7 linked regions of the Homo sapiens genome follow. The protein of the gene in region 3 purifies or fractionates together with the protein of the main gene of each other region. This does not show direct contact. Each region holds a gene or a part of one and is shown on either strand. Other genes may lie near its edges. The genes, in order: RPF2, CEBPZ, PDGFB, NSA2, BRIX1, MRPS31 and RBM28.

Region 1 (4,276 bases), on a different chromosome or scaffold from region 3:
GCGTGGTGGTGTGTGCCTGTAATTCTAGCTACTCGGGAGGCTGAGGCAGGAGAATTGCTTGAACTCAGGAGGTGGATGTTGCAGTGAGCCAAGATTGTGCCATCACTCTCCAGCCTGGGTGACAGAGTGAGACTCCATCTCAAAAACAAACAAAAAAAAACAAACAAAAAAAAGAAAGTGAGATTTTTTTTAAGGGTGGAACCCTAAGTGACAAATATGTTTTTAAGAATTTTCATATTAGTTAAGTCATGGCTTTGCAATGTGAGGAAAATGTTTAAATAGTTATGAATTGTGCTTTTCTGAACAGAAAGCCCAAAACGAAAAGAGCCAAGAGATTCCTTGAGAAGAGAGAACCGAAACTCAATGAAAATATTAAAAATGCCATGCTGATTAAAGGGGGAAATGCAAATGCAACAGTGACAAAAGTACTTAAAGATGTGGTAAGTATATATACTTAATCTTTAAAAGGTATTGAAGTCATTTTAGAATTTTCAGCATGCTAGGATGGGCTGTCGGAGAAATACGTAGATAAGCTTGCCTTACCATAAGAACTACTAGTCTTAGAGAAGAGCTAAAGTTGGGGGTTTATTTACCTTGCGTGGCACCTTTTCTTAAAGCAACTAGTTCTCTTAGTAAATTTTATTATTGTTTTTTAGGAGCACAGGTGGGTCTGGTAGAGTGAAGGTCTCCCTTAGTAAATTTAAACTGTTTTCAATTACTAGAATTTGGCTTACTTACATTTTAGGAAAAAATCTAATTTGTAAAGAGAAGTAACTGCATATTGCTGTATATTTAGTCATTCAACAACACCGGTTACTGTGCCTCTGCTGGGAATTAATAGGTGAGACACAGTTCTTTCAGTGAGCTTAGAGAGATAGACATGTAAAAAGTTCTTACACTGTGCTGTGCTGGAGGCATGGACAGGGTAGGGTGGGAAACAGTTAAAATCACATAGGGGAGGCCAGGCACGGTGGTTCACGCCTGTAATCCCAGCACTTTGGGAGGCCGAGGCAGGAGGATCACGAAGTCAGAAGTTCGAGACCAGCCTGGCCAACATGGTGAAACCCCGTCTCTACTAAAAGTACAAAAATTAGCCGGGTGTGGTGGCGGGCGCCTGTAGTCCCAGTTGCTCGGGAGGCTGAGGCAGGAGAATCGCCTGAACCTGGGAGGTGGAGGTCACAGTCAGTCGAGATTGTGCCACTGCTCCAGCCTGAGTGACAGAGAGAGACTCCATTTCAAAAAAAAAAAAAAAAAATCACATAGGGGGACCCCCACACAGGGTAGGTTCCCCCAGAGATAACACTGCAGCTTCATTTTGAAGGAGAAGTTGGTGCAAGAAGTGGGAGAGAAAGAGAAGATCCTCTGAGGCTGAGAAAGAAGTTTGTGCAAAAGGGAGTATGAAGGAGCATTGATGCATTTGGAGAACTGTAAATAATTGGGCATGGCCAAAGGAGAGTGGGCTAGATGAGGCTAGAAGAGGAGGCATGGGTCACATAGTAACATGAAATTTGAATTCTAATCTGAAAGCTCCGTGTAATCATTGAAAGATATTAAGCAAGAGATACCATCAGTCCTTTTAATTGGCTTGATTAGAGAGGGTTGAGAGCAAATGTAGGAAACTAAGCCATTGCTGCCAGCTAGGTGAAGAGCATCTGGAGTCCAGTGGTGGCAATGAAAATGAGAAATGACCAGAAAGAATAGATGTTGAGGAAAGAAGAGTTGGGAACTAGTGAAAAGTATGACTTCCCAGGTGTTTGGCTTGAGTGCCTGATGGGCAATAATGCCAATTAGAAAATGTATCAAGCGGAGCAGGTTTGGAGGGAAAGGTGAAAGGTTCGGTTTGGGACATGTAATTTAAGTAATGAAAATAAAAGCTTTGTTTTTTCTACCTCTGTAGCCTAGTGTACAGCCCAGTGTCTGGACATAGTAGGTACTCAATATATATGTAATCTATGAAAGAAAGGCATAGTATGGGCCAGGCACAGTGGCTCACACCTGTAATCCCAGCACTTTGGGAGGCCGAGGTGGGCGGATCACGGGGTCAGGAGTTCGAGACCAGCCTGGCTAACACGGTGAAATCCTGTCTCTACTAAAAATGCAAAAATTAGCCAGCCATGGTGGTGGGCGCCTGTAATCCCAGCTACTAGGGAGGCTGAGGCCGGAAAATCTGCTTGGACCTGGGAGATGGAGGTTGGAGTGAGCTGAGACCACGCCATTGCACTTACTCCAGCCTGGGTAACAGAGCAAGACTCCAACTAAAAAAAAAAAAAAGACATAGTATGTGGAGATATCTAGTAGGTTATTTGACTAATTAGGCCTTGAGTACAGCCAATAGATCTTTGAATTAAATCAATTAAGTAATCGAATACATTTTTGTTGTTGTTATTGAGGTGGAGTCTCACGCTGTTGCCCAGGCTGAAGTGCAGTGGTGCCATCTTGGCTTACTGCAACCTCTGACTCCCGGGTTCAGGCGATTCTCCTGCCTCTAGCCTCCCAAGTAGCTGGGAGCCACCACACCCAGCTAATTTCTGTGTTCTTTTAGTAGAGACAGGGTTTCACCATGTTGGCCAGGCTGGTCACAAACTCCTGACCTGACATGATCTGTCCGCCTCGGCCTCCCAAAGTGCTGAGATTACAGGAGTGAGCCACCATGCCTGGCTTTGAATATATTTTAAACTTGACCAAACTCTATGCCTGATAAGCATAGTCAATTCAGATGTCTGAATGCCTTATATAGGCCCATCCCTTTTTTGAAATGTTTGTCTGAATTTCATTGTGCTAACGGGAAACTGCCCCTCTCCTTCTAGTATCCATCAGCACAATGACCCTGCATATTTAAGTAAGCTTTAAAAGCAGCACAATATTACAGATTACTACAATAATTAAAATTCATCATGATGACTCTGAGTCATCAAGAAGAGGTGGCAATGTTTATTACACGGAAACAGGGAAATAGTTGGCCAAGAATCATCAAAAGTTTTAGTACTTAAAAAGGTAGATTTTACTGTTGCATTTTCTTTGTTCACCAACTCTGATAGTTGATGAATGATTATTATACCTTATTTTTCATTGTTTCCCTCATTTACCCATTTCTCTAATGCAAGGTAGTACCTGATGACATCTTTGTTATTCTCTATGGTAGAGCAGTACTGGCCATACAAGTAATAAATGATTATAGGCCAGGTGTGGTGGCTCACACCTGTAATCCCAGCACTTTGGGAGGCTGAGGTGGGAGGATCACTTAAGCCTAGGATGACAGCCTGGACAACAAAGTGAGACCCCATCTCTATAAATTAAATTTAAAAAAATAATAAAATACAGCCTGGACAACATGGTGAAACCCCATCTCCACTCAAAATACAAAAATTAGCTGGGCGTGGTGCATGTGTCTGTACTTGGGAGGCTGAGATGGGAGGATCACCTGAGCCCTGGAGTTTCAGGCTGCAGTAAGCTTTAATCACGCCATTGCACTCCAGCCTGGGCAACAGAGTGAGACCCTGTCTCAAAAATAAATAAATAAAATAAAATGAATGATTATTTGTGGATAGGTAGAACTAGGAAAAAAATGAAGAACATTGAATAATAGGCATTTTTTAAAGAGCTGTGTTTAACCTCTGGCTAGTATTCTAATTGTCATCATTATTACTGTTTCTAAGTTTTCTGATCTCCACGCAACATTATTTCAATCTGTCAGCCTTTCGTGATAGAATTTATTTTTTCTGTTTTTGTCTACTACTTTTTTTTTTTTTTTTTCTGAGACAGGGTCTCACTCTATCACCAGAGCTGGAGTGCAGTGGTGCAATCACGGTTCACCACAGCCTCGAATTCCTGAGCTCGGGTGATCCTCCCGCCTTAGCCTCCCAAGTAGCTGGGACTGCAGGCATGCACCACTATGCCTGGCTAATTTTTGCAGTTTTTTGTAGAGACAGGGTTTTGCCATGTTGCCCAGGCTGGTCTCGAACTCCTGGGCTTGAGTGATCTGCCTTGTCCTCCCAAAGTGTTGGGATTACAGGCGTGAGCCACTGCACCTGGAATTGTTTCCCTAGAGAGAGACTGGACTAAGTCGAGTTTAAAGAAATGAAGGAAATTGTTTAAGTTGGATAGACTATTGACAGGGCATAGAAACTTTTAAATAGGAAAGTCTAGTCCAAGAATATTAAGCTTACATTTCAAGTTACTGTAAGTGATGAAAAGGGAGCCAGGCAGAAGCCCTCAGAATAAGATTGAGGCCCCAGAGCAATCTTGGAGAGTGACTGTTATGATGCTTTATTTTTAT
Region 2 (4,276 bases), on a different chromosome or scaffold from region 3:
ACCTCCTGAGTAGCTGGGATTACAGGAGCATGCCACCATGCCCAGCTAATTTTTTTATTTTTAGCACAGACAGTGTTTTGCCATGTTGTCCAGGCTGGTCTCGAACTCCTGACTTCAGGTGATCCACCTACCTCAGCCTCCCAAAGTGCTGGGATTACAGGCATGAGCCACTGTGCCACCTGAATGTTACAAATTCTTGAGTGAATAAATGATTGATTCAAAGTAGACCAAATAATTTTAAGTAGCAAGTACCAAAAGCCAATTGAATATGGGTTTCAGATTCCATATTACAACTAATCTTTGGTTTTGGTATAGTACTAAAGAAGAAAATTCACAGCTATGTGAAAGACTATTTTCTACACATGAGGCCAGATTGTATGTTTCAACGTGGAATACAGAAGCAGATGAAATAATCCACTCTCTTCTGTTAAGCCAGACATTAAAGAGATTTGCAAAACTGTAAAGTAATACTACTCGCTATATATTTCGTCCTGAAGCATAATTATTTTTCTTTTTTTCTTTTTTCTTTTTTTTTTTGAGGCAGAGTCTTGCTCTGTCGCCCAGGCTGGAGTGCGGTGGTGCGATCTCAGCTCACTGCAAGCTCCGCCTCCCGGGTTCACACCATCCTCCTGCCTCAGCCTCCCGAGTAGCTGAGACTACAGGCGCACACCGCCACGCCTGGCTAATTTTTTGTATTTTTAGTAGAGACGGGGTTTCACCGTGTTAGCCAGGATGGTCTCGATCTCCTGACCTCGTGATCCGCCCGCCTCGGCCTCCCAAAATGCTGGGATTACAGGCATGAGCCACCTCGCCTGGCTGCATAATTATTTTTCATAAATATGCTACTTACTAGTATGTAGTAGCTTTATGGTTTTTGTTTTTGTTTTTTGTTTTTTTTTTTTGAGACAGAGTCTTGCTCTGTTGCCTAGGCCAGAGTGCAGTGGCGCGATCTCGGCTCACTCCAAGTTCCGCCTCCCAGGTTCACACCATTCTCCTGCCTCAGCCTCCCGAGTAGCTGGGACTACAGGCACCCGCCACCACGCCCGGCTAATTTTTTGTATTTTTAGTAGAGATGGGGTTTCACCATGTTAGCCAGGATGGTCTCGATCTCCTGACCTCGTGATCCGCCCACCTCAGCCTCCCAAGGTGCTGGGATTACAGGCATGAGCCACCGCGCCTGGCCGCTTTATTGTTATTTTTAATGGACCTATAAGTATTTACAATTTTTCTGTTTATTTTTATAACATAGGTGTCTGTAGATATAAACCTGTTGAATAGAAACTGATGGAATTTTTGGTTTTTAAGTGTAGGAAATGGTCCTGAGACCAATATGTTTTGAGAATCACTTTTTTAATGTATTGGCTTAAATTTCAAATTTTTGCATTTTCATTTTTGTTGTTGTTGAAATAGGGTCTCACTCTGTCACCCAGGCTGGAGTGCAGTGGTGCCATGTCAGCTCACTGCAGCCTCGACCTCCTGGGCCCAGGCAGTCCTCCCACTTTAGCCTCCTGAGTAGCTGGGAGTACAGGCACGCGCGCACCATCACACCCTGACTATTTTTGTACTTTTTGTAGACATGGGGTTTCGCCATATTGCCCAGGCCAGTCTCAACTTCTGGGCTCAAGCAATCTGCCTGCCTGAGCCTCCCAAAGTGCTGGAATTACAGGTGTGAGCCACCACACCCAGCCCGATTTTCTTAAATAAGCTATAAATGTACTAAGAGTCGACCTTAGAAATATTGATATTATTCACATTTTTCTTTTTAGTTATCTGTGCATTTTCATCCCTCCGTGGCCCTTTTTGCAAAGACCATCCTTCAGGTGAGTCTAAAATAAATCCAAAGATGAGAAATAAGAAAAAAAGTATCATTTTAGATAATCAATAATTGGTCATACAGTGTTTTCTCTAACAGAGAGAATCTTGTACATTTTACTGCTCGTATAAAGAAGCAGTGACTTGTTTCATACAGAGTAGCAGATAACTTTTCCCACTCTGAGATGAGTGGAAGCAATAAGACATTGAAAGCCACGCAGTTATTTATTTATTACCTTCTAGCTCCTCTCCTGGAGAAATACTGCCTCACTTTCCCATTTGCTGTGTTTGCCACTTCAGGGTTTGGTTCCTGATTAATGGTTAGATGGCCTGCATTATTAATATTAGTCTATCCATCAAATCAACATTACATCCTAGAATATGTATGTATATGTATCTGTGTGTTTAATTTTTTAAGTATAATGTGCATGAGAGAGATATTTGAAGAGTCATTTATTGCATATTTGTATCTTCAATACAGTGTAATAGAAATTATCTTTTTCTTCCTTTTTCTTACTTGGATTCATAGACATAATTTGAATTAAGTTTTTAAATCCCCGCTCCACTTTTCAGGGAAACTATATTCAGTATTCAGGGGACCCACTGCAGGATTTCACTCTAATGAGATTTTTGGATCGATTTGTATACCGAAATCCAAAGCCCCATAAAGGCAAAGGTATGCTTCTATTTAGTGAATTATTTGGCTTTCATTTTTAATACATAATAAACAATATGAGCTTATAACTAGGTTTTGCATTATACTGTCATAATTTTACATTTCAGAAAACACAGATAGTGTTGTGATGCAGCCGAAAAGAAAACATTTTATTAAGGATATTCGTCATCTTCCTGGTAAGTATAAACCTTAGACAGTTGAAACTGAAAAGACAATATAAGACAAAGATGCATAAATTGTATTATTCTTTGTTCTAATTTATCAGAATAAAACCTGAGCATCAAAGACATTATCCATCTTTTTTCCCAAGAATAGGTATTCTTAAATCTACTGTATCTGACTGGGCCTTTTTTTTTTTTTTTTTAACTTTATTACAGCAAATTTGAAACATATCCAAAATAAACAAAATAGTATGATGAACCCCCTCCCCATTACCATCACCCAGCTTTGACAGTTGTCACCATTTTATCATCCGTAGCTTCATCCACAACCCCTATGTATATAATTATTATTGCTTACAATTCAGACCATCTTAAAGCTCTCTAATATCAGCTTAGCAGCACAAAAACCCACAGCTGGTTTTGTCACAGAGCATCATTTTAAACTTAATAACCTACTTCTATATTTGCTAGCCATCTTCTGGATCTGAGTCTGTTGTTGTATTCAAAGCAGACATTTCTTTGCATACCAGATCTCATCTCCCTTTTGTTCAGAGACCAGGATTAAATTAGACCTTATAGATCATTTAATTTCCAGTGACTTACTTCACAGAGGTCCAGAGATGTAAAAGGACTTACCCACAGTTAGTAAGTTAGAATTAAAAGCCAAATCTCCTTTTACTCAGGATGAGTCAGCAATTTTTATTCTGAAGAGGTAAAACTGATTTCTTGTAGTTCCTTATTTCTTAGTTTTCCTCAGTATAAAGGAAAACTCTGTTAACTTCCTGTTTATTCCCAGAATGGCACGCATTAATGGCAAGCTTGTCATTTTTTGAGCTGAAAATGACAAGTTTAAAGTGATTATTTATTAAAATAACTCTTTGAATTTTTTATTTCTCTTGAAAGTTGGGTCCTGGATGCAAATGAAGAACAGTAAGAGAACCCTGTTGTTTCACTGTAACGGCACTGACAGCTATGTACTGCCTACTTTATGCTGTAGCCAGTGAAGTTTCAAATGTTGGGGGGGTCTTCACACAGACTTTTTCAGAGATTGTCCCTTGCACTCCAGAGTCCCTTCTGTCTACCTTCCCACACAATTCTGAGATTTTTAGAATTACAGATTATGCTGTATTTTGTCTTAAGAGCTTGAGTAACATAAAGGGGATTGCTATATGAAGTTAAAATGTTTAAATTTATTTTTGTAGTGAACAGTAAGGAGTTCCTTGCAAAAGAAGAAAGCCAAATACCAGTGGATGAAGTGTTTTTCCACAGGTACTATACATAATATAGTTTCATTTGGGGAAACTGCTAAAATTTAAATTTTTAGATTTCATAAAATGCTTCATTTTATGAAATAATCTACTTCAATAATCTACTACTGTGTGTAAATAGACCATGGAACATTAGTGGGAGAAGTGGCCTTAGTTTTAAATGCTTCATTTTATGAAATCTAATCAGCATATTTTGAAAAGATCAAAGGATATGTCTGTGTTTGTTAAGAAAATTTACAAATCCGTCATTTTGCTAATCTTAATATATCTTAGTAAAACTAAAGTAAATTTGGGAGTTTTGTTAATTTAGCATATAAATTTTGTTTTATGCTTCTTTTTGGAATTTAGCCTTTAATTTC
Region 3 (4,276 bases):
CCCGGAGGCACCCGCTGAGCTCCCCTGCCAAGTGGGGGGACTCTGGACAGGCCTACGCTCCTGACCCAGGTTTCGTCTCCTCCCAGGTTCCCTGACCATTGCTGAGCCGGCCATGATCGCCGAGTGCAAGACGCGCACCGAGGTGTTCGAGATCTCCCGGCGCCTCATAGACCGCACCAACGCCAACTTCCTGGTGTGGCCGCCCTGTGTGGAGGTGCAGCGCTGCTCCGGCTGCTGCAACAACCGCAACGTGCAGTGCCGCCCCACCCAGGTGCAGCTGCGACCTGTCCAGGTGCGTAGGCTCCGCGGCCCCCCGAGGCTGGTCCCGGTGGTGGGTGGAGACCACCCTTCTGGGGCTCATACCTGACCAGGCTTCCTTGACTGGGCAGAGTGGTGTGTCGAAGGACATTCCTGATTTGTTCCTGGGCTCTGTCCAGAGAGGCCCACTCTTGGGAAGCTCTTCCTAGGCAGGTGGACTGAGGCCGACCATGAGTCCTCTGAGGTGGCTCAGGCCACTGTAGCCAAAAGCCACAGACAGACCCCCCGGGCTGGGCGAGGTGTGGAGCCAACGTGAAGTAGGGATGTCACCTCCTTTACAAGGACAAAATCGCAAAACGTCCCTTGAAGAGCCGTATCCGCAAACATTTATCTGACACTCAGAATGTTTTGGGGAGCTACTCAGGTTCCCCCAAAGCTCTCCCTATTCAGGGCTGTCTTGAGAAAGGCTCAGATGGGTGGCCCTGCATCTTTGACACCTGCTTGTCTCTCTTTGACAAGCTGTGTCTTTAATAAAGAGAGTGCAGAGAGGCCCACCAGGTGATAGACACTGCGGAGCTGGGGCAGGTCCCCTGACAACAGTGGAATGCTGATCCTGCTTTTCTTCGGAGGGACGGGGGATACATACACTGGACTCAGGGAAAATTCTAGAGTAGAGGCTGTCTCAGGGAGCACCCTGGTCTCACCCTAGTCGGGGCAGAGTCAGAGAAGCTGCTGCTTCTGCTTCTTGTGGAAAGATTCCTGCACGCCCCAGGCCAGCCTCGCCCACAGGCTGGGCAGTGCGCATTTCTCTAGCTCAGCACCGGCCCTTGCCCGATGCTCTGCCTGCTTAGCCGCACTTCCTTCTCCTGCCACCAGCCCGTGGCCTCTCCTCCTGCCCACCTTCCCTCCCTGGCTTGGGCCCCACGCCTGAGACTACGAATGTCACTCCACCCCACTGCCCACTCTCGTGGTATCTCCTGTCCTCGATGCTTCCAGCTCTATGGATGGACACCTGACATCTGACCTCCCCGTTCCCACCTCCCTCCTAGATGAAGCCTCCCCCCACTTCCTTCCAGACAACCATCTCCCGCCTCTGCCGCAGCCCTGACCTTGGCTGGCGCTCCGGGAATGAGGATACCGCAGGCCCCAGCTCAACCCGGAAATGCCTTTCTGGCTGTCCCTCTCTGGGGGCACTGAGGGGGGCCCCAGGTCGGGAGGGCTTGTTTTGATGGAAAAGCTACGAGAAGGGCAGAGGTCAAGGTCCTGCTATTGTTTGGGCCAAAGCTTTTGCCCCACAGCCTGCTCTCCGGGCTTTCGAGGAAAGATTGCTGCAGGGGACACCGGGGTGGGAAGCGCAAGCCATTCGGGCTTCCCGGGCTCCTGGCTGTGTGGTCTCTACAGAGGCATTTTGTGGCTCTGTCCTCCAGGTGAGAAAGATCGAGATTGTGCGGAAGAAGCCAATCTTTAAGAAGGCCACGGTGACGCTGGAAGACCACCTGGCATGCAAGTGTGAGACAGTGGCAGCTGCACGGCCTGTGACCCGAAGCCCGGGGGGTTCCCAGGAGCAGCGAGGTAACCACCTTTCCAGGCTCAGCCCTCAGCCCCCTTCCCCTGCAGCAGCTGGGGGCAGGGGCCGGTCTTAAAAATGGAAATGGGATCAGGCCCGCCCCCGGTTAAATTCACGGGAGGCTTTCTTTTCATCTTGCTGAGACACAAGCCAGGTTCCTCCCTGGCCTGAGAGCCCTACATGAGGATTAGCCCCTGGCTGGCTCTCTGGTCTCTGCCAACCAGTACCCTTCACCTGTGCCACCCCCGCCGGGCAGGCCTCTTTCAGTAACTAATGGAGTTTCTGCCTCAAGGCTTTAGCACACACTGCTGTGGCTGAAGAACACTTCTCCCAGCTCTCCACAAGCCTAGCTCCTTCTCTTCATTAGAGTCTCAGCTCAGAAGTCACCTCCTCCTAGAAGTCTGCCCTGACCACCCCATCCAGAGCAGCGCCATTTCCAGTCTTGCTACCATAGCCCCCTGCTTTGTTGGATGTGGGGATGGGATGGTGGAAGGAATCTGGGCCTGGATGAGAGAAAGCTCCGCGCACATCAACTTCCGATAGTGAGCAGCTTGTCCTGGGGATGAGAAATCAAACGAATTTCTCGTATCCTTGAGCGGGGGAACCAGGACCAGTGGGGAGAAGCCACTGGAGAGAGATTTCAGCTCCATATGCAGAACAGCTAGCTGGTGATCAGTCAGGGGTGCAAGGTGGAATTGGCAGCATTGTGAGGCATCTCTACAAAAAATACAAAAATTAGCCAGGCATAGCGGCACACGCCTGTAGTCTCAGCTACTTAGGAGGCTGAGGTGGGAGGATCGCTTGAGGCTGGGATGTCGAGGCTACAGTGAGCCGTGATGGCACCACTGCACTCCAGCCTGGGCAACAGAGCAAGACCCTGCCTCAAAAAAAAAATGATTAATACGATTAGATGAGCGTTTAAAAAAATCACGTAAGTGATAGTTCTTTTTCAGTAACTTTCTATTGTTAGGGACAGGACAATCTTTTCATTCTCATTTCTTATTAACAAGACCCTGAAGACGGAGCCATTTCTTGGCATCTGTGTCTTATTCCCAGAGCTGAGCTGAGTCGCTGGATGCCATGGAAAGGCTGATCATATGACAGCTTCAAACTGACATGTTGTAAATTATTGAGTTAATATGGAGGGTGATTTCTCTATTAAGGGAAAATTATATATATCTATATATATATATATTTTTTTTGAGGCAGTCTCACCCTGTCACGCAGTCTGGAGTACAGTGGCACAATCTTGGCTCACTGCAACCTCTACCTCCTGGGTTCAAGCAATTCTCCCGCCTTAGCCTCCCGAGTAGCTGGAATTACAGACACATGCCACTACACCCGGCTAATTTTTGTATTTTTAGTAGAAACGGGGTTTCACCATGTTGGCCAGGCTGGTCTTGAACTCCTGACCTCAAGTGATCCACCTGCCTCGGCCTCCCAAAGTGCTGGGATTACAGGCGTGAGCCACCACGCCCAGCCTCTTTCTTTTTTAAGAGACAGGGTCTCTCTCCATCACCCAGGCTGGAGTGCAATGGCATGATCATAGCTCACTGCAGCCTTGAACTCCTTCCTGGGCTCAAGCGAGCCTCCCTCCTCAGCCTCCTGAGTAGCTGGGATTACAGGCATGTGCCACCACGTCCAGCTAATATTTTAAGTTTTTGTAGAGATGAGGTCTTGATTCGTTGCTCAGGCTGGTCTCTAACTCCTGGGTTCAAGTGATCCTCCCACCTCAGCCTCCCAAGGTGCTGGGATTACAGGCATTGAGCCACCACGCCTGGCCTTCTTTATGTTTAGAGTGAGTTACTTCATGTATTTGTTTGACGTAATTTTCTAAACCAGTTTCTTGGGAGGCGCATTATACCAGTGAAACGTAGATGATGTAAAGTCCCATCATTTTAGTTCCGGTATTTTGGTTGAGTATGACGGTGTTTCTGTCACCTGTCCATGGGCCTGGCTAAGGCTTGGTAGTGTGGCTCTCTGTGATAATGTGGTCAGTGTCAGACCTCCTGGGCTCAGATCTGCGTGTTGTCACTTGAGCTGTGTGGTGACCTTGTGCTTGCCTGGGCTTGGTATAGCCCAGTGTCCTGCTGATGGCCCAGGCTCTGGGGAAGAAACTCCCTGGGCCCTTCAGTGGCCCTCCTGGTGTCTTCTGTCTGAGGGGATCTGAAGCCCATTCAAGTCCCTGAACTGCTAGAAAATCTGCGCAATTGCAGAGATGGGAGAGCTGCCTCGTGGGAGCTGGTGTCTGTAAGGTGGGAGGTCAGGTGTCAGATCCCGGTAGGCTGGGAGAGCTCAAAAGGCTCCCAGGAAATGGCTGGCCTTGAGCTCAGCAGACACAGCTGTCCCTGCCAGGGTGGCCACCTGGGAATCCAGGACGGAGAGAAGTGTATAAGAGCTCCCCTTGACTGAGGCTCACAGGCACTGTCGTTTGTGCTGAGTGGTTGGAGG
Region 4 (4,276 bases), on a different chromosome or scaffold from region 3:
AGTAAACACATATACTGCTTATAGAAGTCACTATCGGCTGGGCACCGTGACTCACGCCTGTAATCCCAGCACTTTGGGAAGCCAAGGCAGGTGGATCACCTGAGGTCAGGAGTTCAAGACCAGCCTGACCAATGTGGTGAAACCCCACCTCTACTAAAAATACAAAAATTAGCTGGGTGTGGTGGTGTGTGTCTGTAGTCCCAGCTACTCGGGAGGCTAAGACAGGAGAATTGCTTGTACCCAGGAGGCGGAGGCTGCACAGTGAGCCAAGATTGTACCACTGCACTCCAGCCTGAGCAACAGAGCGAGACTCCATCTAAAAAAAAAAAAAAAAAAAACCACCACATTACAGGTGGTATTTTCTCACCCATAACACAGCATTAAGATTTTTAGCTTAAGCCAACCATTTATTTAACATACCCATGATATATAAACTTGTTCTGTTTAATTTGCAGCTTATGAGACAATACAGACCTCTAGAAGACGGTTGAGCCAAAAATGTGTTGATGGTCAAGCAAAAAAAATAGATCTATTACTTTGTACAACTAAAACATATTTGACTTATTCTCATTGTCCTTTAATAACAATATAAACTTTTAACTGTGGCATATTTTTAGGGAAAATGGGAAGTCCCTCTGCCTAAAGTACGTGCCCAGGGAGAAACAGAAGTATTAAAAGTTATTCGAACAGGAAAGAGAAAGAAGAAGGCATGGAAGAGAATGGTTACTAAAGTGTGCTTTGTTGGAGATGGCTTTACAAGAAAACCACCTAAATATGAAAGATTCATCAGGCCAATGGTAAGTCCTTGGAAGAGTGTAATGACCGAAATGTTAGTTGACTTTATTAAATCGGATAAAGAACATTATCATTTCCTGAAATTCTTTAAATTGATGTGGAACAGGTTGAAAGATATTTTTATGCAATTTTTGTTATTTTATTGACAGAAGTTATTTAGTACTTTTTCCACTAGTCAAAAATCTTTAGCCCAGTGCGGTGGCTCACACCTGTAATCCCAGCACTTTGGGAGGTTGAGGTGGGTGGATCACCTGAAGTTAGGAGTTCAAGACCAGCCTGGCCAATGTAGTGAAACCCTATCTGTACTAAAAAATACAAAAAATAAGCTGGGCGTGGTGGCGGGCGCCTGTAATCCCAGCTACTAGGGAGGCTGAGGCAGGAGAATCGCTTGAACCTGGGAGGCGGAGGTTGCAGTGAGCTGAGATCACGCCATTGCACTCCAGCCTGGGCAAGAAGAGCAAAAATCCGTCTCAAAAAAAAAAAAAATCTTTTCAGCTTCGTGAGAGATTTGAAAAAGTAGTATCATAAGACATTGTCAGTGAATTCTGACTTTTAAACATGACATATTAGAATCTTCATTTTCCACAGTCATATTTTCCTCATTAAACTAGTGATCTACAATATGCCTGATATTGTCTAGGTCTCAAAACACTTCTTGTCTTTGACAGCAGTTCGAAAACTTGAGTAGGACTGTTTTATAAGAGTCAATTCCAGTTTGATAAGGAAAGTATCTAAATGCTTTTGAAAATCATTGAAAAGCCGGGCGCGGTGGCTCACGCCTGTAATCCCAGCACTTTGGGAGGCCGATGCAGGCAGATCACGAGGTCAGGTGATCAAGACCATCCTGGCTAACACTGTGAAACCCCATCTCTACTAAAAAAAAAAAATACAAGAAATTAGCCGGGCATGGTGGCGGGCGCCTGTAGTCCCAGCTGCCTGGGAGGCTGAGGCAGGAGAATGGCGTGAATCTGGGAGGCAGAGCTTGCAGTGAGTGGAGATCATGCCACTGCACTCCAGCCTGGGGGACAGAGCAAGATTCTGTCTCAAAAAAAAAAAAAAAAGAAAAAAAGAAAAAGAAAATCTTTGAAAAAAGGAAGATAATTTAATATAGCTTAATTTCTGTTGAAGGCAGCAATAGTAATGTGACCCCAAACTTCCCCACCCCTGGGGAGAAACATAGTTGAAGATATATTTTTGCAAAATCCCTTCAAAGAGACTGAACTATTCTCCCAGTTAGATACACAGCCTCAAAAAAACAAAGTATCAGAGAGAGGAAAGTTGCAACATGCCATAATCCTAGTGTTCAACCTGAGTAATTTTTTTTTTTTTTTTTTGGGACGGAGTCTCCCTCTGTATCCCAGGCGGGAGTGCAGTGGCACGATCTCGGCTCACTGCAAGCTCCGCCTCCCGGGTTCTCGCCATTCTCCTGCCTCAGCCTCCCGAGTAGCTGGGACTATAGGTGCCCGCTACCACGCCCGGCTAATTTTTTTGTATTTTTTTGTAGAGACGGGGTTTCACCGTGTTAGCCAGGATGGTCTCGATCTCCGTGATCCGCCCGCCTTAGCCTCCCAAAGTGTTGGAATTACAGGCATGAGCCACCGTGCCCGGCCAACGTGAGTAATTTTTAATAGATTAAAATATTGGCAAATAGCCTGTTTCTGTAAATAAAATTTTAATGGAACACAGTCATGCCTGTTCATTTACATATTGCATAACCCCTACCCCTAGAATTGAGCAGTTGCAACAGAGGCCATATGGCCTGACAAAGCCTAAAGTGTTTACCTATTGGGTTCTTTACACAAAATGTTTGCCCACCCCGGATTATATCATGGACTCGACTTGTTTTGGTTTCATATTCATAGTCTGAATATATTTTGGTAGCCTTAACAGTTCTACAGGGAGAGAATATACAAGTCAGGCTATTCTAGGTTTTCTGTAGTTTCACAGATTTGTCATTATAATCAGATGGCATCCTGAATGGTGTCAGTTTCTTACAAGCTTGATTAATGAGTCTGTTACTAAGAAACTGATTTAGTGATTTTTTCCCCCCATCCCCATGCACACAAAAATGAAGACTGCAAAATGTTGTGACGTTTAAAGTACTACACCCTAAAAGACCTTATTAGGTGACTGGGTGACTCCATAACCAGTTTCTGTAACAAAGACTCCTCTGGGTCTCCTCCAGTCTCATATTGCCATCAACCTAAAGAAAGCTGACAGTCCACTCCTTTTTTCATCATGGAAGGTAGCCGAGTTATATAAAGACTTGGAATCAGGATATTAAGGTTTGAGTCTGTTTACCACTCACCATTTAATCTGGAAACAAGTCATTTAACCTGCTGATCCTTGTTACATCATTTGAAAACAGAGGAGAGGGGATGTGTTTGTTGTGAGGTTATTGTGTTTAAGTGAGCCAGTTGTGAGCTAGCATAGTGGCCTGGTATATATAAAGTCCTTAGTAAGTCTAAGTGTAGATGACTAGACAGTAAAAATCTGGGTATGTTGCTAGGTAGCTATTACAGGGTGAAAAAAAAAAAAACTTTTCAGAGGCTAGCTGTGGTGGCCTGTAATCCCAGCACTTTGGGAGGCTGAGGTGGGTGGATACGTTGAGAGCCCAGGAGTCCAAGACCAGCAGGCAACATGGCGAAACCCCATCTCTACCAAAAAAAAAAAAAAAAAAAATAAGCTAGGCATGGTGGTGCGTGCCTGTAGTCCCAGCTACTCAGGAGCCTGAGGTGGGAGGATGTCTTGAGCCCAAGAAGTCCAAGCTGCAGTGAGCCAAGATCACGCCACTGCACTCTGGCGTGGGCAACTGGGCAAGACCCTGTCTCAAAAGAAAAAGAAATTCTTAAGTATTTGTGTGGGTGTTTTCCCCACATATTTATACTGTAACCATCAGCTTTTTACTCTGTAAAACATATTTTGTTAGCTTCTTTAAGATGACATTATTCAACCATAGTTTTTTGGAGATGGTTGAAAAAGATAAGCGAAAACGACCACTACTCATCACTGTTAACATTTTGGACGTAAACATTCTTATGTTGTGTTTGACTTACTAGGGCTTGCGTTTCAAGAAAGCCCATGTAACACATCCTGAACTGAAAGCCACCTTTTGCCTACCAATACTTGGTGTAAAGAAGAATCCCTCATCCCCACTGTATACAACTTTGGGTGTTATTACCAAAGGTACTGTCATTGAAGTAAATGTGAGCGAATTGGGCCTTGTGACACAAGGAGGCAAAGTTATTTGGGGTAAGTGAATTTTTGAATACAGGGCTGCTGTGTTCTGCAGTACTAATAGAAATACTATTCAAGTTGATGTATTAATAAAATATACAGCAAATTTTTTTAATGCAGTAGAGCTAAAACACTGTAAATCAGATGTAAATATTTAGTAAAAAATACTTTATAGAAAAAGTTGTTATAAATACAATTGTTTTAAAATTTAGCTTACTGGTTTTAGTTACATAAGGTGTAATAC
Region 5 (4,276 bases), on a different chromosome or scaffold from region 3:
AAAAAAAAGGAGGGAGGTTTCCAGTAATCAGAAGTGAGACCATTTTAGATGCTAGGCCCAAAAATATGATAGATAATTTCACCCAAGATATGGGCAGAGCATCTAGTTTACCTTGGGTAGAATACCTAAGAGGAACTTTAAAGGTTCCTTCTGTGAATAAATACATGTTTAGGCCTTTGTAGCCTATTAGCCTGGTTAGGTATTTTTGAGATAATCTGGATGATATTAATCACATATAATTACTTTAGTTCTCATTTATATTATCTACTTCATTTTCCTATACTTTGCTTCCTTTAGGTTTGTGAAATGAAGAACTGTAATAAATGCATCTATTTTGAAGCTAAGAAAAAACAGGATCTCTATATGTGGTAAGAGAATGTATTAAGATTTTGGTTAAACTCATTTAAGTGGATTTGTTCTTTGTACCTTTTATGTTATAGACTCCTAGTGTTTCATGTTAAGGGTTGAGAATGAAGCAAACTTTTGATTTCACGAAACTTGATACCTTTAAAGAAAATTAAATGTATAAATATTATAAGCATATTATTTATGGTGAATAGGTGGTAAGCATTGACTACATTTGCTAATTAGTTGAAAAAGCTTACTCCATATCTTTCAGGCTTTCAAATTCACCTCACGGACCATCTGCTAAATTCCTTGTTCAAAATAGTAAGTTGACTCAATAAATTTTTTTAGATGAGGAAATTAAAAGTAATCTTTTGAAATAGTTGTGCAAAAGTTACAACTATTTTTGTTTTTGTTGTAATTTTTCTAGTTCATACCCTCGCTGAACTGAAGATGACTGGAAACTGTTTGAAAGGTTCTCGGCCCCTTTTGTCTTTTGACCCTGTAAGTTTCTCATTCAGTGTATGAGGTCTAATTTTCTTATCTGGCATGGTTGTTTTTAGTAGATATAGTTGTGTTATTCAATTTAGTTTCACCCCCACCTTGGTTTTATGGATTATCAATTCTTTCAGGTACATTTATAATGAGGTTATAGCCAAGTTATAGAAACAAATGAGCAAACAGTTTTAAACAAGGCAGTCTACTGTTAAATAATATGCTTACCTTATTTTTATAGGCTTTTGATGAATTACCACATTATGCTTTGTTAAAAGAACTCTTAATTCAGGTAAATATCTTTAAAATTAGCTATCCAAAATATACATGATATATCTTGGAATAAGGAACTAACATACACTTTTTTAACTAGATCTTTAGTACACCACGGTATCATCCCAAAAGCCAACCATTTGTGGACCACGTGTTTACTTTCACCATTTTGGATAATAGGATATGGTTTCGGAACTTTCAGGTAAGCTTTACTTGATTTTTAATTATACCTTTTTTTTAATTGAGTTTATTTATTTATGTTTTGAGACAGAGTCTCGCTCTTGTTGCCCAGGCTGGACTGCAGTGGCACAATCTTGGCTCACTGCAACCTCCACCTCCCGGGTTCAAGCTTCTGCTCCCTCAGTCTCCTGAGTAGCTGGGATTACAAGCACCCATCATCACGCCTGGCTAATTTTTGTAGTTTTAGTAGAGACGGGGTTTCGCCATGTTGGCCAGGCTGGTCTCAAACTCCTGACCTCAGGCCATCTGCCCGCCTTGGCCTCCCAAAGTGCTGGGATTCCAGGCGTGAGCCACTACACCCGGCCTAATTTTTTTTTTTAGAGATAGAGTGTCGCAGTGTTGCCTAGGTTGGCCTTGAACCTCCTGGCCTCAAATCATTCCTCCTCAGCATCTTGAGTAGGTGGGATTGCAGTTGTGAGCCACTGTGCCTGGTCAATTTTTAGTTAAACTTTTAGATAAGGATATACAGGGTTTGCATACACAAAAAATGCAAATAATTCTTTTGTTTTAAATAGCTTCCTTTTCCCTAAAGAGATTGCTGCAAGTAACTATGTACTGTCTTATATCTTAAGTGAGCTCTACCTACTTCTATTCATGACTGTTAGTTGATACAGAGTATGGATTTCCTAATAAGCCATTATATATTTAACTTTATAGAAAGGGAATAACTTGAAGATCCATGAGATACTTGGGTTCCTAATTTGTAGAAAGTGCTGTAAAGGATACAGTAAAATAGAAGTTTCTCTCTCAAAGCTTAGAAGTTTCTCTCTCAAAGCACCTCAAAGGTTAAGACCTAGCAAAATGTAATTGCTCTAGAAGGCATTCAATGGCAGCGGTTAGATGATGAGTCACACAGTGACTCATTCAGGAGAAAAGAGGAGGTGACTCTAGAAATCTTGAAGCAGGAGTTTGGCACGATAAGTGCAGAAAGATGAAGAGGTGGAAGAGAACAGCAAGAACAAAATTTTAGACAGTATATGACATAAACTGAGCTCTTTTCTGCATATTTTATATTGGATACCTGGCATGTGAGTTGAACACATCATCCTAACCTCTGAGGGTAGACATGCCTGAACTAATAGATAACATAAATATTTGTTGTTCGGAAGTTGCCTTTTAATTCCATAATCAGTAGCTATTAAATAAATTTGACTACATATCCTTTTAATCTAACTTGAATTAGATTTATAAAAACAATTTAGGGATTGATTTAAGTTTCAAGAGTTCCCCCATAATGTGCTTTAATACATTTTGTTAATAGTGGTTACTGTTTTAAAATCCTGTTTAACCAGTTTTTCAAGGATATATGCATTGTGACAAGCAAGATGTGAACCAAAATCTAATTACTCAATTTTAAAAGAACTCACTGAAAAAACATTTTTCCATGACAACTTCCTATAAGTACTAATAGATTTCAGAAAATATTGATGATTTGCCATTTACCAAGTTTCACCCCCACCTTGATTTTATGGATTATCAATTATTTCAGGCACATTTATAATGAGGTTATAGCCAGTATACCTTTTGGGAATAACGTAACCAAACCAAAATGAAATGTTTCCTTTTTATTAAAGATCATAGAAGAAGATGCTGCTCTTGTAGAAATAGGACCTCGTTTTGTCTTAAATCTCATAAAGATTTTCCAGGGAAGTTTTGGAGGACCAACTTTATATGAAAATCCTCACTACCAGTCACCAAACATGGTAAGCGGTTGTGTCATTCAGTAGTCTTCAATGTACCAGAACCCTTTGGCCAAAATGATTCTGTGAAGTAATTGCTGTTTTATTACCTGTGAAACTGAATTTGGTTTTTGCTGCATAGAAACTTGGAAATTACTCCCTTTTTTCATGACACTGGCTGAAAGGATATATGGTTCATAACTGAAAGTCTTTGCCTTATATAAAATGTTTATTTTTATTTCAAAAGCATCTAATCTTTTTTTTTTTTTTTTAGCATCGGCGTGTCATAAGATCCATCACAGCTGCAAAATACAGAGAGAAACAGCAAGTGAAAGATGTGCAAAAACTGAGAAAGAAAGAGCCGAAGACTCTTCTTCCACATGATCCCACTGCAGATGTTTTTGTAACACCAGCTGAGGAGAAACCAATAGAAATACAGTGGGTAAAACCAGAGCCAAAAGTTGATTTGAAAGCAAGAAAGAAACGGATTTACAAAAGGCAAAGAAAAATGAAACAGAGGATGGACAGTGGGAAAACAAAATAAGTCAATGGAAACCTGATTTGTTTTTCAGTTACTTTATATTTATTTTGTATTCAATGTGTAAATACTTTTATTATCTAATACTATCTTACGTCTAATTAGTGTAGCATTTACAAGAAAGAAAAATTAAGATCTTAAAATCAGTGATTATCTTTTTCTAAATAAAATATCACCAGAATTCATCAGTTAATTTCTGATTTCTTTTTGAAGTTTGTGTTGCTAAAAATGTAGCACACTTAATGTAGCCTGTTCTCTTGGGTTGGAATTTTTGGTTTAGCAAAGCTGAAATTCAGACATTTATTAGGTCATATTATTTGTAAAAGCATTCAACACTTCAAGAGCATCGGTTGTGGATGGTAAAGTAGGAGTAGACTGGTAGAAAGGAAGGCATCTCACTGAAGTTTACTCAGTCATCAGTTAATGAAGCCATGGAAGAACCAACCCCTGATCTGTCACTTCAAAAAAGAGTATATTAAAATGTTGAGGTTTTGAGAATCAAATGCATTAATGGCTGTGTTGAAAGCACTTTGTAAATTTTTTATTTTATTATATTTTATTTGTGAGACGGAGTTTCGCTCTTGTTGCCCAGGCTGGAGTGCAATGGCGCGATCTCGGTTCACCGCAACCTCCACCTCCCTGGTTCAAGTGATTCTCCTGCCTCAGCCTCCCGAGTAGCTGGGATTACACGCATGTGCCACCACGC
Region 6 (4,276 bases), on a different chromosome or scaffold from region 3:
TTGAGAAGCAGTGCTGTAGCACGTCAGCTTCATAAAGGCAGGGACCATGAAATTCTTATTTACTAATATATTGTCAGTACCTAGTATAGTGCCCACCACAGAGTAGATATTCACTATATTTAGCAAATAATTTTTTAATATACCCTCTTACTGAAACTAACACATTCAGAGTTTTGAAAATTCTTCAGTAGTCAAATACCAAAACAAATTTTTAACCCCACAGAATAAAATTGGATATTTGGATTACTTAGAATTAGGAAATCTTTTTGCATGAGTCTAATATAGATGTAATCATTTGTGTTGTTCTTTTTCATAAATGTATCTAGTGAAGAAAGCACAAATGACATTTCTAGCCATTGATTATTCTCTTTTCTGTTCCATTCTAGCTTTCCTTACAAATGGTTATGGGTTAAGTAGCATGTAGCTCGATGACAATGTTGATCAGATTAGATAACACCCACTCAGAAAGTTTTTTTGAAATAATCTTTTTTATTGATAGAAATTTATTTTTGTATTGTTTAATGATAACTTTTAAAGAGGTATTGTGTTAAGAGCAAGGACTTGCAGTCAGTCACATTTGGGTTTGAGAATAATAAATTGTCATTTATTAACCATGTCAGTGTTTTTCTACCCAACCCTGGGGTAAATGGAGGGAGGGAACAGACTTGGGAGCACCAGCACCCCCAGACCTCCCCTGGCCACCCCAAGGACCAAGTGATCAATATCTCAGCACACCTCTACTTATTTGTGGCACACAGTGTGTTTTAGTTCTTAGTGAGCTGTGAGCTACATGACTTTGGGACTTCTCTGATTTTCAGTTTCCTTATCTGCAAAATAGAGACCTTAGGGAGTTAATGTGGGTATGAGAAATGTAAATAAAGTATATTTCACAAGATGAGACATGTAGTATATGCTAATAAATGGTAAGTTGCTGCTGTTATGGTTGTTAACAATAATTATAAAAAGAGACCAGCCTGGCCAACATGGGGAAACCCCATCTTTGCTAAAAATACAAAATTAGCTGGGCATGGTGGCACATGCCTACAATCCTAGCTGCTCGGGAGGTTGAGGCAGGAGAATTGCTTGAACCCTGGAGGCGGGGTTTGCGGTGAGCCAAGATCGCGCCATTGCACTCCAGCCTGGGCAACAAGAGCGAAACTCCGTCTCAAAAAAAAAAAAGCAACGGAAAGGGCTTGAATTGAAAAAAAATCTTAGATACATAGTTTTTTACTTTATTGTAAGTAAGTTTTTTACTTTATTGTAGACTGCATTGTATTTTTCATTTTTTTCTTTAATGCATCTTTCCAGGACAAAAAATAACATCCAAAGATATTTTGGCACTAACAGTGTGATCTGTAGCAAGAAAGATAAGCAGTCTGTTCGAACTGAGGAGACTTCCAAGGAGACTTCAGAGAGCCAAGACAGTGAAAAGGAAAATACGAAAAAAGACTTGTTAGGCATTATTAAGGGCATGAAAGTTGAATTAAGCACAGTAAATGTACGAACAACAAAGCCCCCCAAAAGAAGACCACTTAAAAGTTTGGAAGCTACACTTGGCAGGCTTCGAAGAGCTACAGAATATGCTCCAAAGAAGAGGTAAATTTAATTGTAATTCAGATGTTGTTTGAAACTCCAGTAAGCTTTTTGTTTTGGTAAAAAATATTTTTAATACAAGTACTTGGGAAATGTTGAATTAATGAAGAATAAATATCAGCTTGTAAACACAGGGACTCTAATAATTACTCGAGGCTGGGCATGGTGGCTCACACCTGTAATCCCAGCACTTTGGGAGGACGAGGCGGGCGGATCACTTGAGGTCAGGAGTTTGGAGACCAGCCTGGCCAACATGGTGAAACCCCGTCTCTACTAAAACTACAAAAGTCAGCTGGGCATGGTGGTGCGTGCTTGTAATCCCAGCAACTTGGGAGGCTGAGGCAGGAGGACTGTTTGAACCCAGGAGGCAGAGGTTGCAGTGAGCCAAGAATTGTGCCACTGCACTCCAGCCTGGGGGATCAAGCGAGACTCTGTCTCAAACAACAACAACAACAAAATAATAATTACTTGAGAAATGCTGTTATTGTATTATATTTAAATAACAAGAGGATATCTGTACACAATCCAGAGAAAGGAAAGGAGAAATGATCTCATTGAGAATTTCACACACTTACATATTTATCAGTGTTATTAACTGCCATGTAATTGCCTCTTTAAGCTGTTAATTAACAATATCATTTACATCTTGATTTGAAGGTAGCTTAATGTCTGTAAAGGACTTGCTTATTTAAAATTTTCCATTTTAAAGATTTCTGGAATAAAGTTTTAGCATGTTGATTACAATTGCTTTATATGACTTCCCTTGATCAATACCTATCAGTGCTTTCAGCTTTCTTGGTAGTTTCCTCAGAGTATTAAAATTATTTGTGTTTGTCAAAAGAGTATTATATTTAATTCTAAATGCAATCAGTGATACTTGGCATTGTGTGGTAGGTTAAATGGCAGTATTTTTTTTAGTGCTATGTAATGATGTATTTCAATGATGTCATTAATTCAAGTAGTAAGCTATGTGGCTTTAGGATACTCATCACTGACTTCTGTTACCAGAACAAACAGATTTTAATAGTCTTCTGTTTCCCAAACTGATTTAACATTTTAATGGAACTTCTTGGTTTCTACGTTATATCAAAAATACCTCTAGAAAGTATGATTGGGTAGTAGAGTAAGCTAATTCAGACTATCAGTACCCATAATAGGTACTTCCTCCTCCTCCTCCTGCTTTTAGAAACAAAATGGTTATATATAAGTATATGGAAATAAATAATACAAACATATATAAATACTTTTCAAGAATGGCATTTTTAAAGCTCCTAGACCTGTTTATGATCCATCATGCTCTTTATTATAATTATAATTGAATTAACGATTACAGAAATGGTAAAGTGAGTTGAATGCTTTGGAAAGAGTCAGTAAAGGTCATTTAAAATTTTTCTTTCCAATTAGGTATGAGTGAGGCAAACATACATGTGTGGGAAGATCATACACTTAGATTGCTTTGTAAGCTTTCTTACATTCTTGCTCCACTTTTCCACTTAAACTGAAATTGAAAATACTGGAGGATGGGTGTGATGTATATAAAAGATGTGTCTTAGAACCTCTATTAGTGGTCCTATGTTCAAAGAAGAGGCTTTGGTCCCACATCAAAAGACTGGTGAATGAGGTACATTTGTTTTGAGTTTTAAAAAGGTGTCTTTTAATGATTTTTTCCTCCCCTCCCTCTTTTTCAAGGACTCCAAGGTGCACGGGATTAGGTTAGTCATGATCTTTGCTTCATGAGACACTGTCATCATTGCTTCATACATAGACTGCTTTTCTTTGTTTGTATTAAATATTGAACCTTCATTGATATGGTTACCATGGCTACACTACCTCCCAAACTTAGTGGCATAAAACATTCATTCATTATGCTCACAGATTCTGTGGGTTAGCGATTTGACTAGAACACAGTGGGGGAAGGCCAATCTGTGCTCTGTGATGTCTGGGGCCTCAGTTGGAAGACTTAGAAGTCTGAGGCTGGAATTGTCTGAAGTTTGCTCACTCATAGGTCTGGCAGTTGCTGCTGGCTGTCAGCTGAGACCTTATTAGCAGAAACACCTACATGTGGCTTTCTTTGTGGGCTGGGCTTTATCCCTGCATGGTGGCTGGGTTCCAGGGCGGGTGTCTCAAGAGAAAGTGAGCCAAGAGAAAGTTGTATTTTCTTTTTAATGACCTAGCCTTGTAATAAGATTGGACATTACCGTGTTTACCCTTGTTCCACATTGATTTTCCTGGGATATTTGTTTTTATCACAACCACTCCTGAGAAACAATCTTGACAAAGATATAATGTCATTGATAGGAATGGAGCAATATACAGTTGGTCCTCTGTATGTGCAGGTTCTGTATCCACAGATTCAACCAATTTCTGATTGAAAATATTAAAAAAAAATACAATATAACTACTTACATAATTAGGTATTATAAGTAATCTAGAGATAATTTAAAAGTATTCGGAGGATGTGCATTACTTATATGCAGGTACTCTGCCATTTTATGTAAGGGGCTTGTGCATCCATCCTGGTGGGGGCCAGAGCTGTTCCTGGAAACAATGCCTGTATCCCACGGCCCCACCTCCCCCCAACCCCTGCAGATATGAAGGGACTGCTGTAATGTTACTGTGAACTGCCTAATTTACATCATTATTGACATGGTTGTATTTTCCTGTGCTGCCCCAGAGTACCTTA
Region 7 (4,276 bases), on a different chromosome or scaffold from region 3:
AGTAGGAGTTTCATACTGTTGAACTCTCTAAAGGCCATTTGTTCCAGGGCCTAGCTGGGCTTGTGAAGGACAACAGAGTCATTTCCTAAGGACCCCAAAAGACAGCATGAAGGAAAAAATAATAATAAACTGCTGTTCACAGTGCCTTGAGTGTACCACCGTACTTTCTGCTATGCCTTGTCCATTCCAATCTGGACAGTCTCTGTGCCCCTCCTTTCCACTCAAGTGTTATCCAGCACTCAAGTTCTGGCTCAAGGCCCAACATCTCCGTGGGGACCTCAGCCATCCCAGGGCATTGTGACCCCTTCCTCTAAGTCCCCGGCACACTCGCTGATTGGTACCCTCTCATTCGACAAAGCATATGCCATTGTGGCTTACTTGTCATTTCTTTAGGTCTTGCCTTCCCAAGTAGATCATGAGCCACTATAAGAACTAGCTCCCATAGTCCCAGCCCCTGGGCCTGGTACATGGCAATGCTTAGTGATTGGTGATTGAGGATAATGGTGGTAAAGGATGTACCAGACAGTCATCTCCTGAAGAGATGCCGAACAACCTGTCCTTGTTTTATGTATTTTCTCTTTCTTTCCTGTCCAGTTTTATTCCTCTCATAGTAACTGCTAAAAAAATATCAGTTCCTGTCACTCTTCCACCCCTTTTCTCCCTCTCCCCTGCATTGTGGTCTGGGCCTTGGTCCACTAGCAACTCCCCTTAGGTGTTGCTTAATCTGCCTCATGGCCAAAGCCAATCCCATTCCTGTCCCCCGCTACCCAAGGGACTCCCAGTCTGTATGCACAAGGCGGGATGTGAAGTCTGGATGTGCAAGAAACCCAGCTGTAAGAAACAGCTTCCCTCGGCTTGGCATGGTGGCTCATGCCTATATTCCCAGCACTTTGAGAGGTCAAAGTGGGAGAATCACTTGAGCCCAGGAGTTCAGGACTAGCCTGGGCAACATAGCAAGATCCCACCTCTACAAAAAAAGAAAAAATTCAGAGTCTCAAATGTCCCTTCATCTCCTTACTCTCGACCTGTCTCCCTAGTTCTCTGCCGCCTTTTCCTCTCCCCTGGATCTGACACTCAATTGTCTGCATGCACTTTTCAACTGAAAGAGACTCCAATGCCATCCTTCTGATGAAATTTTTGCTTTGGATACTACTGCAGAAAAAATGCTATCTTGTATTCTGGTCCATGGTGGGGAAGACCCTGTCGTAGAACCTGGCAACTCAAGTGGAGGGAGGGGCCAGAACATTGTTCTTATGCTATTTACAGTGAGACAACAGGATTGATGCAGAACTTTCTTTTTTTTTTTTTTTTTTTGAGACAGAGTTTCATTCTTGTTGCCCAGGGCTGGAGTGCAGTGGCATGATCTCAGCTCACTGCAACCTCCACCCCCCAGGTTCAAGCAGTTCTTCCTCAGCCTCCGGAGTAGCTGGGATTACAGGCGTGCGCCACCACGCCCCACTAATTTTTGTATTTTTGGTAGAGACGGGGTTTCACCAGTGTTGGCCAGGCTGGTCTCGAACTCCTGACCTCAGGTGATCCACCCACCTCGGCCTCCCAAAGTGCTGGGATTACAGGCATGAACCACCGTGCCCGGCCGTGATGCGCAACTTTCTAATAACATACTTTTGAAAGTGCCCAGACATACATCCCTCCTCTGGTACCACAGTGGCCATCAGTTGCCAGAGAACATGAAATTATCCAGCCCTCAGCTCTGCAGCAGGATTCTGAGGAGTAAAGCAGGCCTGTAAAGTACTCTAAAGTACTTCAGAGAGGTAATGCCACAAAGCGAAGAACACCTCTTGGAGGCAGAGCCCCTCAGCCCTATCCAGGCCAGCAGTGTCCACTTGAAATCTGAAAGCAGCCTCCCTCACCAAACCAGCAAGATGGAAAACCTCCCTGGGTTGGCAAGTGGCCCTGGGAAGTACATGCCCCATCTCTGTCAGGATAGCAGTGGAGAGGTTTCGTGCCAGTGCCAGCTCCACCCACCCAGATGGTACTCAAGACTCCAAGCCTGTCAATGGGGTGGAAACTTTCTGGCATTTTCTGTCAGAAGGGTGAGTTAGCACTGAACCATCTCATGTGTCTTTTCACTGAGTAACAGCCCATATCCATTCCATGAAATGAGTGACTGCTTTGTTGAATCAGATAGTAACAAACATTTATTTGTAGTCTGGTTGTGTCATATCATGGTTGAATTGCAAACAGGTTGGATAGAAGAGTCAGCAAAAATCAACAAAAGCATTCTGTAAAAAACTTTTCTAGAATTACAATAAATGGCATTGTATATTTTATTTATAAATTATGTGCTGCACATCATTTTTATCAATGAAATTTATAATAAATTTCTGTACATATATACATTTTTATCCCAGAGAGCCAGTTGTTAAGCATTTACCAGCAATAAATGCTTTTTGTTTCCTGCTTACACAGGTTCTGGGAGTGGCCAGCCCACTCTTTGAGATGTCCCCACTTGCTTTTTTAGTTGTCCAAGTAGTGTTCTGCCCAGCCTTCCCGACTCTCTTTCTTATCCTTCCCTCGAAACTATTCTGTTCCTTATGCTTAAATACTTTCCAGTCATGGGAGCTTTGCTGTAGGCCCTTGGCCTTTCATGGGTAGCTTCTGATACGTGCATGGGTGTTAATAGAGGAAGTTGACCCCGCCTGGGAAGAATAATGACCTATGGAGACCTGGCCCTTTCTCTTATGGCTTCTTAAAGTGACAGCTGTTATGGGAAGTTCAGGCATCTTGACGTGGAAAATACATTGTTCATTTTCTTTTAATTTTTTTTCCCCTAACCACTATACCAACAGGGATGGAAAGATACTTTTAGTTGGAAGGAATTTGGAGCCCTTAAACGACACCTGGAGCAGCTGCCTGTGGGTGGGGCTTTGCACAGTCTCATCCTGGCAAGGGAGGACGAGCCAAGGACCAGTTTTGCAGAATTGTCATCATGAGGCCCTGGTTGTGTGCTGGGCTGGGGCATTGCCCCTTTCCAGGAGGCCAGGCCAAGCAGGGCTGCCTGGCTTAGGCTTTTGCATCTTCAGCATCCTTTCACGTCTCTTATCTCAGGTGACCTTCACAGCAAGCCTGGTGAAGGTTATTGAGAAGCAGATGTCACCACCTAGTCTTAGAGCTGATGAAAGCAGGATGTGGGGAAGTCCAGACCCTCTCCTGAAACCCCTTGGCCACCTGAGCTAGTACCAGAGCAAGGTCCCACTTGGCCGTGAGTGCTGTCTCTAGGGCCTATTTCAGGAACTGTCTCATATATAAGAACAGAACACTTTTTGCCAGCTATACCAAATGTTTTTGGGATTAAAAAAATAGTTTCTCTTTTCCAAATTAGGTGGTAAGAAAAGGAAGGGCATTTTCATTCTCACATTCTTTGAATGTTGAAACGTTTTAAAAACTTCCAGCTGGGCTTGGTGGCTCATACCTGTAACCCCAGCACTATGGGAGGCTGAGATGGGAGGATCCCTTGAGGCCAGGAGTTCAGGACCAGCCTGGGCAACATAGTAAAACTGCCCAAAATTTGAAAATTAGCCTTGTGTGGTGGTGTGCACTGTAGTCCCAGCTGCTCGGGAGGCTGGGGCAGGAGGATTGCTTGAGCCCAGGAGTTTGAGGCTGCAGTGAGCTATGGTTGTACCACTGTACTCCAACCTGGGCAACAGCGTGATACCCTGTCTAAAAAAATAATAAAAATAAAAAAGGATTAAACCCTTTACTTGACCAGCTTCTTTTCCTGCTACCCCTGGACTAACTAATCATTACATATTTTTGTAGTTGTTTTTTCTTTCTTTCTCTCTCCTGATCTACCACAAGCCAAATGTACTCATATACATACTAATAGGTGAAAAAAGAGAGTCTGAGGAGTGAATACATTTATTTTGTGATTTCCTAGGCAGTAGCTAGGACTCCCTTAGAGGTTGCTAATAGGGAAAGGGTGCGCTGGCTCTACTCAGTTTTATAACTGCTTTTCCCCGAATTCTGCAGACATCTTCATTCCCCTGGAGGTCAGATAATGGCTATTTATTTTCCATAGCCATGAAAATCTCTGGGGAGAGCTGTGGCAATTTGACGAGAGCTATTAAAGGGACATTAGGATTGAAGTAGCTGCTCAGGCAGTCACATACCCTCGATCCTCATCTGCAGGGACAGCTGCCAGAACGAATGAGCCCAGCTCTCCTGCCCGCAGCCAGCCGCGTGTGGGTGCAACTGGCGACCAGCCACTGGAGTGAGTCCCAGGGAAGGGGACAGGTTCTTAGAATCACCATTTGTC

What was found.
Region 1: the proteins of PDGFB (region 3) and RPF2 purify together in Homo sapiens (affinity purification with mass spectrometry; 2 studies listed by BioGRID and IntAct, with this or other methods). This does not show direct contact.
Region 2: the proteins of PDGFB (region 3) and CEBPZ purify together in Homo sapiens (affinity purification with mass spectrometry; 2 studies listed by BioGRID and IntAct, with this or other methods). This does not show direct contact.
Region 4: the proteins of PDGFB (region 3) and NSA2 purify together in Homo sapiens (affinity purification with mass spectrometry; 2 studies listed by BioGRID and IntAct, with this or other methods). This does not show direct contact.
Region 5: the proteins of PDGFB (region 3) and BRIX1 purify together in Homo sapiens (affinity purification with mass spectrometry; 2 studies listed by BioGRID and IntAct, with this or other methods). This does not show direct contact.
Region 6: the proteins of PDGFB (region 3) and MRPS31 purify together in Homo sapiens (affinity purification with mass spectrometry; 2 studies listed by BioGRID and IntAct, with this or other methods). This does not show direct contact.
Region 7: the proteins of PDGFB (region 3) and RBM28 purify together in Homo sapiens (affinity purification with mass spectrometry; 2 studies listed by BioGRID and IntAct, with this or other methods). This does not show direct contact.

The regions. Positions count from the first base shown.
Region 1 is NC_000006.12:110,984,699-110,988,974, forward strand, and holds part of RPF2 (ribosome production factor 2 homolog), read left to right. Parts: intron 1-307; coding exon 308-440; intron 441-4,276. UniProt on the Homo sapiens protein: Involved in ribosomal large subunit assembly. May regulate the localization of the 5S RNP/5S ribonucleoprotein particle to the nucleolus.
Region 2 is NC_000002.12:37,214,528-37,218,803, reverse strand, and holds part of CEBPZ (CCAAT/enhancer-binding protein zeta), read left to right. Parts: intron 1-1,766; coding exon 1,767-1,820; intron 1,821-2,385; coding exon 2,386-2,488; intron 2,489-2,595; coding exon 2,596-2,664; exon of another isoform or gene 2,665-3,483; intron 3,484-3,851; coding exon 3,852-3,918; intron 3,919-4,276. UniProt on the Homo sapiens protein: Stimulates transcription from the HSP70 promoter.
Region 3 is NC_000022.11:39,227,638-39,231,913, reverse strand, and holds part of PDGFB (platelet-derived growth factor subunit B isoform 1 preproprotein), read left to right. Parts: intron 1-86; coding exon 87-292; intron 293-1,685; coding exon 1,686-1,830; intron 1,831-4,276. UniProt on the Homo sapiens protein: Growth factor that plays an essential role in the regulation of embryonic development, cell proliferation, cell migration, survival and chemotaxis. Potent mitogen for cells of mesenchymal origin.
Region 4 is NC_000005.10:74,770,014-74,774,289, forward strand, and holds part of NSA2 (ribosome biogenesis protein NSA2 homolog), read left to right. Parts: intron 1-617; coding exon 618-797; intron 798-2,299; coding exon of another isoform or gene 2,300-2,359; exon of another isoform or gene 2,360-2,480; intron 2,481-3,854; coding exon 3,855-4,047; intron 4,048-4,276. UniProt on the Homo sapiens protein: Involved in the biogenesis of the 60S ribosomal subunit. May play a part in the quality control of pre-60S particles.
Region 5 is NC_000005.10:34,921,920-34,926,195, forward strand, and holds the end of BRIX1 (ribosome biogenesis protein BRX1 homolog), read left to right. Parts: intron 1-297; coding exon 298-368; intron 369-619; coding exon 620-669; intron 670-775; coding exon 776-849; intron 850-1,081; coding exon 1,082-1,132; intron 1,133-1,213; coding exon 1,214-1,315; intron 1,316-2,927; coding exon 2,928-3,056; intron 3,057-3,306; coding exon 3,307-3,576; 3' UTR 3,577-4,077; downstream 4,078-4,276. UniProt on the Homo sapiens protein: Required for biogenesis of the 60S ribosomal subunit.
Region 6 is NC_000013.11:40,764,066-40,768,341, reverse strand, and holds part of MRPS31 (small ribosomal subunit protein mS31), read left to right. Parts: intron 1-1,308; coding exon 1,309-1,596; intron 1,597-4,276.
Region 7 is NC_000007.14:128,302,199-128,306,474, reverse strand, and holds part of RBM28 (RNA-binding protein 28), read left to right. Parts: 3' UTR 1-4,276. UniProt on the Homo sapiens protein: Nucleolar component of the spliceosomal ribonucleoprotein complexes.